Linked DNA regions of Homo sapiens. The protein of the gene in region 2 purifies or fractionates together with the protein of the main gene of each other region. This does not show direct contact. Each region holds a gene or a part of one and is shown on either strand. Other genes may lie near its edges.

The links.
Region 1: the proteins of PGAP2 (region 2) and PPME1 purify together in Homo sapiens (affinity purification with mass spectrometry; one large-scale study listed by BioGRID and IntAct). This does not show direct contact.

Annotation. Positions count from the first base shown.
Region 1 is NC_000011.10:74,244,236-74,248,055, forward strand, and holds part of PPME1 (protein phosphatase methylesterase 1), read left to right. Parts: exon of another isoform or gene 1-1,260; intron 1,261-1,798; coding exon of another isoform or gene 1,799-1,840; coding exon 1,841-1,970; intron 1,971-2,843; coding exon 2,844-2,888; intron 2,889-3,820. UniProt on the Homo sapiens protein: Demethylates proteins that have been reversibly carboxymethylated. Demethylates PPP2CB (in vitro) and PPP2CA. Binding to PPP2CA displaces the manganese ion and inactivates the enzyme.
Region 2 is NC_000011.10:3,818,336-3,822,155, reverse strand, and holds part of PGAP2 (acyltransferase PGAP2), read right to left. Parts: intron 1-3,820.

The DNA.
Region 1 (3,820 bases), about 70 Mb from region 2:
TTGCAGATCCCTCTTTGAGATTCTGTTTTCAATTCTTTGGATATGTACCCAGAAGTGGGATTCCTGGATCATACAGTAGTTCTGTTTTTAATATTTTGAGGAACTGCCTTGATGTTTTTCTTATTGGTTGAACTATTTTACAACTCAGTACACAAGGGTTCCTTCCGAATTCTCCACATCCTCACCAACACTTATTTTTCTCTTTTTTGATAGTAGTCATCCTAATGGGGGTGAGGTGGTATCTCATTGTGGTGTTGCTGTGCATTTATTTATTGATTAGTGATGTTAAGCATCGTTTCATATGCTTATTGGCCACTTCTGTATCACCTCTAGAGAAATGTCTATTCAAGCCCTTTGACCATTTTTTAATCAGGTTACTCGATGTTTTTAGTTGCTGAATTGTAGGAGTCCTTTATATATTCTGAATATTAATCCATTATAAGATATATGATTTGCAAAGATTTTCTCCCATTCCATACACATAGTACCATTTGTCTATTTTTGCTTTTGTTCACTGCTTTTTGGTGTCATATCCAAGAAATCATTACCAAGTCTACTGTCCAGCTTTTCCTCCATGTTTTCTTCTAGGAGTTTTATAGTCTTAGTCTTACTAGGTCTTTAATCCATTTGAGTTAATTTTTGGATATGGGATAAGGCCCCAGCTTCACTTTGGAATATGCATATCTGTTTGGTTATCCCAGTACTGTTTGTTGAAGAGACTGTTCTTTCCCCATTGAGTGGTCTTGGCAGTCTTGTCAAAAATCATTTGACTATTTATGTGAAGGTTTATTTTTGGGCTCTCTATTCTATTCCACTGGTCTATTTGTCTTTACGGCAGTACTAAGCTGTTTCAATTACTGCAGCTTTGTAATTGGGGAGTGTGAGTTCTCCAATTTTGTTCTTCTTCAAAATTGTTTTGGCTAGTCAGTGTCTATGAGATTCCATATGAATTTTAAGGTGATTTTTTTTATTTCCTAAAAAAAAAAGCCATGGGAATTTTGATAGAGATTATATTGAATCTGTGGATTACTTTGGGTAGTATGGACATCTTAAGCATCCAGTGATCTTTAAGATAATATGTTACTATCTCATGTTCACTTTTAGATTTTCATATTGTGGTTGATTCAGTATATTTATTTCAATTATAATGTTTCAAATATTTCAATGGTACAGAAAAATATAGAGAATTATTTATTTTTTCAGCCAATATTTGATTGCATACTCTGTGCTTATCTACAATAAAGATTTAATAAATGTTGACATTTTGTCATATTTGTCTCATATTTCCTTTCAAAATTACTATTGCAGGAACATTATATCATTATCATAAAATATAAGAAAAAATGCTCTACTGACAAATCAACCTATTTTCAGTTTTCCTTTTTAGTACTTTACTATACCACATTTTTCCAGTAGTAATCCTAACTTAGATGACATGTTGTAATCTGTTTCTTGCTTATATTATAAGCATTTTTTCATACTGCAGTATGTTCTTTGTAGTTATTCTTTTGATGAAACATCCTTTTGCCAACCAAGTATAAGAAAGGCTTAATCTTGGCACTACCACTTACTAGCTTTGTGATCTTAAGAAAGTTTCCTAAATTCACAGAAACTAATAGCAATAAAAAGTAAACTTGTAATTATCTTAAAATGAATATTAACAGTGACCCATACAACAAGACTGTTGGAAGGATTGAATGTATATTAAAATGTCTAGGACTTAGTAGGTCCTTAATAAGTGCTAGTTTCCTTCCCTTTCCTTTTCCCAGGGATCTAGTTTTTAATCCTGTTCCTCCAGGGGTTGCCCTCGGAGACTCAGAACTTGCTCTTATTCCTCCAGACCAAGAAAGACCATCCATACACCTGGAGAATTGAACTGGCAAAAACAGAAAAATACTGGGACGGCTGGTTCCGAGGCTTATCCAATCTCTTTCTTAGTTGTCCCATTCCTAAATTGCTGCTCTTGGCTGGTAAGTGTATATGTGCATATATTAGTCAGCTCAGGCTGCCATAACCAAATATCATAGACTGAGTGGCTTAAACAACAGAAATTTATTTTCTCACAGTTCTGGAGGCTGGAAGTCTGAGATCAGGGTGCCAGCATGGTCAGGTTGTGGTGAGGGCTGTCTTCCTGGCTTGCCTTCTCTCTGTGCCCTCACATGGCCGAGAAAGAGTGAATGTGAGCTCTCTGGTGTCTCTTCTCTTAAGGATATTAATTAGGGACGTTCATCCTATCATGTCAGAGCTCTGCCCTCATGACCTGAGGTTACGTCCTTATAGGCCCTAGTTCCAAATACAGTCACATTGGGAATTGGGGCTTCAACATGAGTTTTAGGGGGACACAACTCAGTCCATAGCAGTGTTGGTATATTGTCATCTCAATATGACCTCATTAAAACTTCTCACCAAATGAGTAGTGACATCCAAAGTAGAGTACCTTCCTCATTCATCTATGCCTTTTCTCCTCCCCACACCCAGTCTCTAAACCTAACTAAGCATAAGCATTCATCTAAGCATAAAGGATGACCTAATTCTGGCCTGGCCTGTCTACTTGGTCAAGCTCAAGTCCTTCTTAGTCTAGAGCTAGATGCAGTGGTATAAGGATATTCTGATTATTATGAGAATTAAAATAGTAAAACCTTGTTTTCAGAACCAGTTTAACATAGTAATTATAGGGGAATCTCAACCTGAAAAGTTTTATCTGGTGGTGAGAGTATGCTCTGGGAGTTAGGATTGGTATAAACATGAATGGAGAATGTCATCATATTTAAAACTTTGTAACACTTTTTACTTAATACGTGAACAGCAAAATCTGTTTCACAATGAATTCTCTTGTTTTCTAGGTGTTGATAGATTGGATAAAGATCTGACCATTGGCCAGATGCAAGGTAAGTTATCAAGAAATTATACCCCTGGACCCTTTTCTGAAGAAAGGGTGATAGGGCAGTTAACATCCTGAGATAGTGAGGTATAACGGAGAAAGCATGAGCTTTAGAGTCCGACCCAAGTTGGACATCCGCCTCTACTCCTAACACACTATATGATTATGGGCAAGTATTTCCCTTTCCTGAGCTTTAATTTGTTTAAAAAAAAATCCATCCAAAAATGAAGATTATAATACTACTACCTATGTCTCAGTTATAAGAGTTAAAATGAGGCAATGTGTTTAAAAATTATAAAGTACTGTATAGGTGTATGATACTGTGAAAAGAGATATTCTGACTACTGATCAGTTTTTTGTTTGTGGGTTTTTTTTTTTTTTTTTTTTTTGAATTGGAGTCTCACTCTGTTGCCCAGGCTGGAGTGCGGTGGGACCAATCTCGGCTCACTGCAACCTCTACCTCCCAGGTTGAAGCAGTTCCGGGCCTCACCCACCCCAGTAGTGGGATTACAGGCATGCACCACCACGCCCAGCTAATTTTTGTATTTTTAGTAGAGATGGAGTTTCACCATTTTGGCCAGGCTGGTCTCAAGCTCCTGACCTCAAGTGATCCACCTGCCTTGGCCTCCCAGAGTGCGAAGATTATAGGTGTGAGCCACTGCAGCTGGCCAGTATTTTTCTTATTGTTAGAAGTTTTAGGAAAGGGAAAGGCTCAAGATAATCCAGATATAAAAAGGTATAAATACCTGTTTAGAAGACAGCATGGTAAGATGGTAAAAGTAAGGTCTCTGAAGTTCGGAAAACTGAGTTTTGAATACTGCTTTTCCAGTAATTTTTTGACTCTGGGCAAGTTATCTGACTTGCCTCAGCTTTAGTCTTCTTAATCTGGAAAATGAAAAAACTGATGGCAGCCTCAAACAGATCGTGGGGTATAATGAG
Region 2 (3,820 bases):
CCTGACCTCGTGATCCGCCCACCTCGGCCTCCCAAAGTGCTGGAATTACAGACGTGAGCCACTGCGCCCGGCCGTTTTGTTTTTGCTTTTGTTTTTGGAGACAGGGTCTCACTTCGGTTGCCCAGGCTGGAGTGCCATAGCCCGATCTCGGCTCACTGCAGCCTCTACTTTCTGGGCTCAGGTGATTCTCCCACCTTAGCCTCCCAAGTAGCCACCACCATGCCTGGCTAATTTTTTGGATTTTTTTTTTTTTTTAGTAGCAACAGGGTTTTGCCATGTTGCCCAGGCTGGTCTAAAACTCCTGGACTCAAACAATCCACCCCCCTCGGCCTCTCAAACTGCTGGGATTACAGGCATAAGCCACCACGCCAAGCCAGAATATGCATTTTTTTTTTTTTGAGATGGAGTCTCGCTGTGTTGCTCAGGTTGGAGTGCAGTGGCGCAATTTTGGCTCACTGCAACCTCCGCTTCCTGCGGTCAAGCAATTCTCCTGCCTCAGCCTCCCAAGTAACTGGGATTACAGGCGCCTGCTGCCACGCCCAGCTAATTTTGTATTTTTAGTAGAGATGGGGTTTCACCATGTTGGGCAGGCTCGTCTCAGAACTCCTGACCTCTGGTGATCTGCCTGCCTCGGCCTCCCAAAGTGCTGGGATTACAGGCGTGAGCCACCACCCCCAGCAAGAATATGGATTTTTAAAAGTTTCCAAAACTGTGGAAATGGCCAGTCCATTGCCCACACTTTCTGTGCACTTCTGCAGACCTCCAACGAGGGCCAGCGCAGTGCCAGAGCCCAGCAACCCAGCAAGGGAATGAATTTGCTCTAACTATGGAGGGACAGTCTTCGGAAGTGGAGTTCTTAAGGACCATCATTCCTTTCTTTCAATGAGATGCCAGACTGCTGAGAAGGTGAGCAATGCTGCAGGCGGCTCATAGGGCAGCCCACAGGTAGGCCTGGGGCAAGACTAGCCATGGGGCTTCACAGCCTCCACAAAAAAGGAGATGGATTCCCTTCTGCACTGTCAGAGGAAGCTAAATGTAGAGCTCTGGGAGAGAAGATGCTGGTCTCAAAGCCATAGCTTGAGATACCATAGCTTGAGATATCATAGCTTGAGACCAGGCTCAGACATGCACTCTGAGTAATGTGAAGGGGCAGCATAGAGGCTCAGGAACTGCACAAAGCTGAGTCTGCATCCCAGCTCTGCCTTTATTAGCTGGGTGACCTTGAGCAAGTCACTTCACCTCTCTGAGCTCCAATTTCCTCATTGGTAAAATGGGTATAACACCACCTACCTTGCAGGGTGTTTATGAATTCTCTTTATTTATTTATTTATTTGAGACAGGGTCTCGCTCTGTCACCCAGGCTGGAGTACAGTGGCATAATCTTGGCTCATTGCAACCTCCGCCTCCCAGGTTCAAGTGATTCTCGTGCTTCAGCCTGCTGAGTAGCTGGGACTAGAGGTGCCACCACACGCAGCTAATTTTTCTTTTTTTTTTTGAGATGGAGTTTCACTCTTGTTGCCTAGGCTGGAGTGCAATGGTGCGGTCTCAACTCATTGCAAACTCCACCTCCCAGGTTCAAGCAATTCTCCTGCCTCAGTCTCCCGAGTAGCTGGGATTACAGACGCCTGGCCTCTAATTTTTGTATTTTTAGTAGAGATGGGGTTTCACCATGTTGGCCAGGCTGGTCTTGAACTCCTGACCTTAAGTGATTCACCTGCCAAAGTGCTGGGATTACAGGCGTGAGCCAACATGCCAAGCCATATGAATTCTAAATATAACGTGTATAAAACATCTGCAGTATCTGGCATGCAGTTAAGTACAATAAGTGATGGCTTTCAGAAGACAAAATTTCCTGTAAAGAATGCAAAAACGCTGTGAGCTACATGGCCACAGAGCATGGGAAGGTCTGCTTATGGGAGAGACGCAGGAACCTCCAAGTCTCCTTACTTGATTTTTCTGCCTTGCTGTTACTCTGAGTTGAGTTAGTCAGAGCATTGCCTCTGCTTCCTGGAATATTCAATCTGAAAACTACTCCCCAGTCTCAGCTACTTTAAGGAAAACAGGACCACCATCTAAAGCTTGACTGGGAGAGCCTAAAGGATTCAAGGGCCCTGAACCCTGACCACTGTTGGGAACAGGTACTGGGGAGAAATGATACAGAGTTTGGGGAAGGCCTCAGGAGGAAGAGAGAGTTAGGGCATTGTGGCTGCTGGTCCTGTCTTCATGAGCTTCTCTCAGATTAGGGATGGGGGTGGGATTCTAAGAGCAGGGACTGTCTCTTCCATCATGTACACACACACGCACATATACACACAGACACATACACACAATCAGGTACATGTACTCCTACCGCCAGCCCCATTCCAGCACACAAGTTCCCCACTCATCGACTGCACCAGCAACAAGCAACATCAGGAGCTATGAGAAACTGGGTACACAGCTCACCCCAAACTTCCCCATGTGCCCAGAGCTAAGAGTACTGAGAGACGGGAGGATAAGCCCTTTCTGATAGGACAGTAGATCAGAAACTCATATGGTATAAAGCAGGGTTCCCCAAAATCCCCTTGCACGGCACCTCAGATTTCACCATAAGATTCATTCCTTTGGCCTCAGGTAAAAGTCCCCCCACATTATAGATGCCTTCTCTAGCTACCGTACTGTCCCCCGCCCCATGCCAACTGCACAAAAACTCCATTTGCTGTCAATCCCACTTTCTACACCTCTCTAGACTCCATCCCTCCTCTCTACGCTCACAGTCCGCATCTTGGCTCTGGTTCCCCCAGGAGCATGAGCTACTGCACCAGCCTCCTTATACCCTACTCTTGCCCCTGACCTTAAAGCTGTTCTCCACTCAGAAGCTAGAGTGGTCTTCTGAAGCACAAATCTCCAGCCTACACAACATGGCAAAACCCCATCTCTACAAAAAAAATATAAGAATTAGCCAGGCATGGTGGCATGCACCTGTAGTCCCAGCTACCCAAGGCTGAGGCTGAGGCGAGGAATCACCTGAGCCCAGGAGGTCAAGGCTGCAATGAGCCAAGATCAGGTCACTGTACTCCCGCCTGGGAGACAGAGTGAGATCCTGTCTCTAAATAAATAAATATGTAAAGCACAAATCTGATCATGTCCCTTTCCTGCCTAAAATCTTTCCAAAGCTCTTGATAAAAATTGCCCTCTGGATAATATCAAAAGTTGCCGGCCTGGCATTCACAAAGAGCCTTCTTTACCACAGAGCAACAATGTCCCCTCCTCCAAGAAGAAAGTGATCCCCAATGTCCAAGCTGCGTGAAGTGCCTCCTCTGAGCCCCACAGTCACTGTACTCTTTTTTTAATCATAATAGGAACCCCAGACCACTGTGTTGTGACAGTCTGTGTCTAAGGATTGATTCTTGTAACATTGAGATGTTAAGGGCAAGTCCATATCTAATTCCATGCCCCTAGCACAACAGAACCTTTATCCCTGGGCCCCCAGGAAAGGCCTAGTGGACTGATTGTGGGAGACAGAAGTCCATCCAGGTTTCTGGCTGGCAGATCCCTGAGTGGATACAGGTGGTGGGGCCTGGGGCTGCCAGTAGGAGAAACAAAGCTTGAGGATCCAGATCAGAGCTGAGGATGGATCCTCCAAGGTCAGTCCCCGAGTCTGGGCCAAAGCCACTTGTTACATCTCCCATCTTCTGGCCTCATTTTACCTCCTCAGTCCTGGCTTCCTTTCCAATCTGCCTCCTTCCTCTCATGATCTCTCCTGCCCATTCCAATCCCTTCTCTTCCCCTATCACCTCCCTCTAACCCCCAACTCCCTTGCACTGTTATTGTTTTTTTT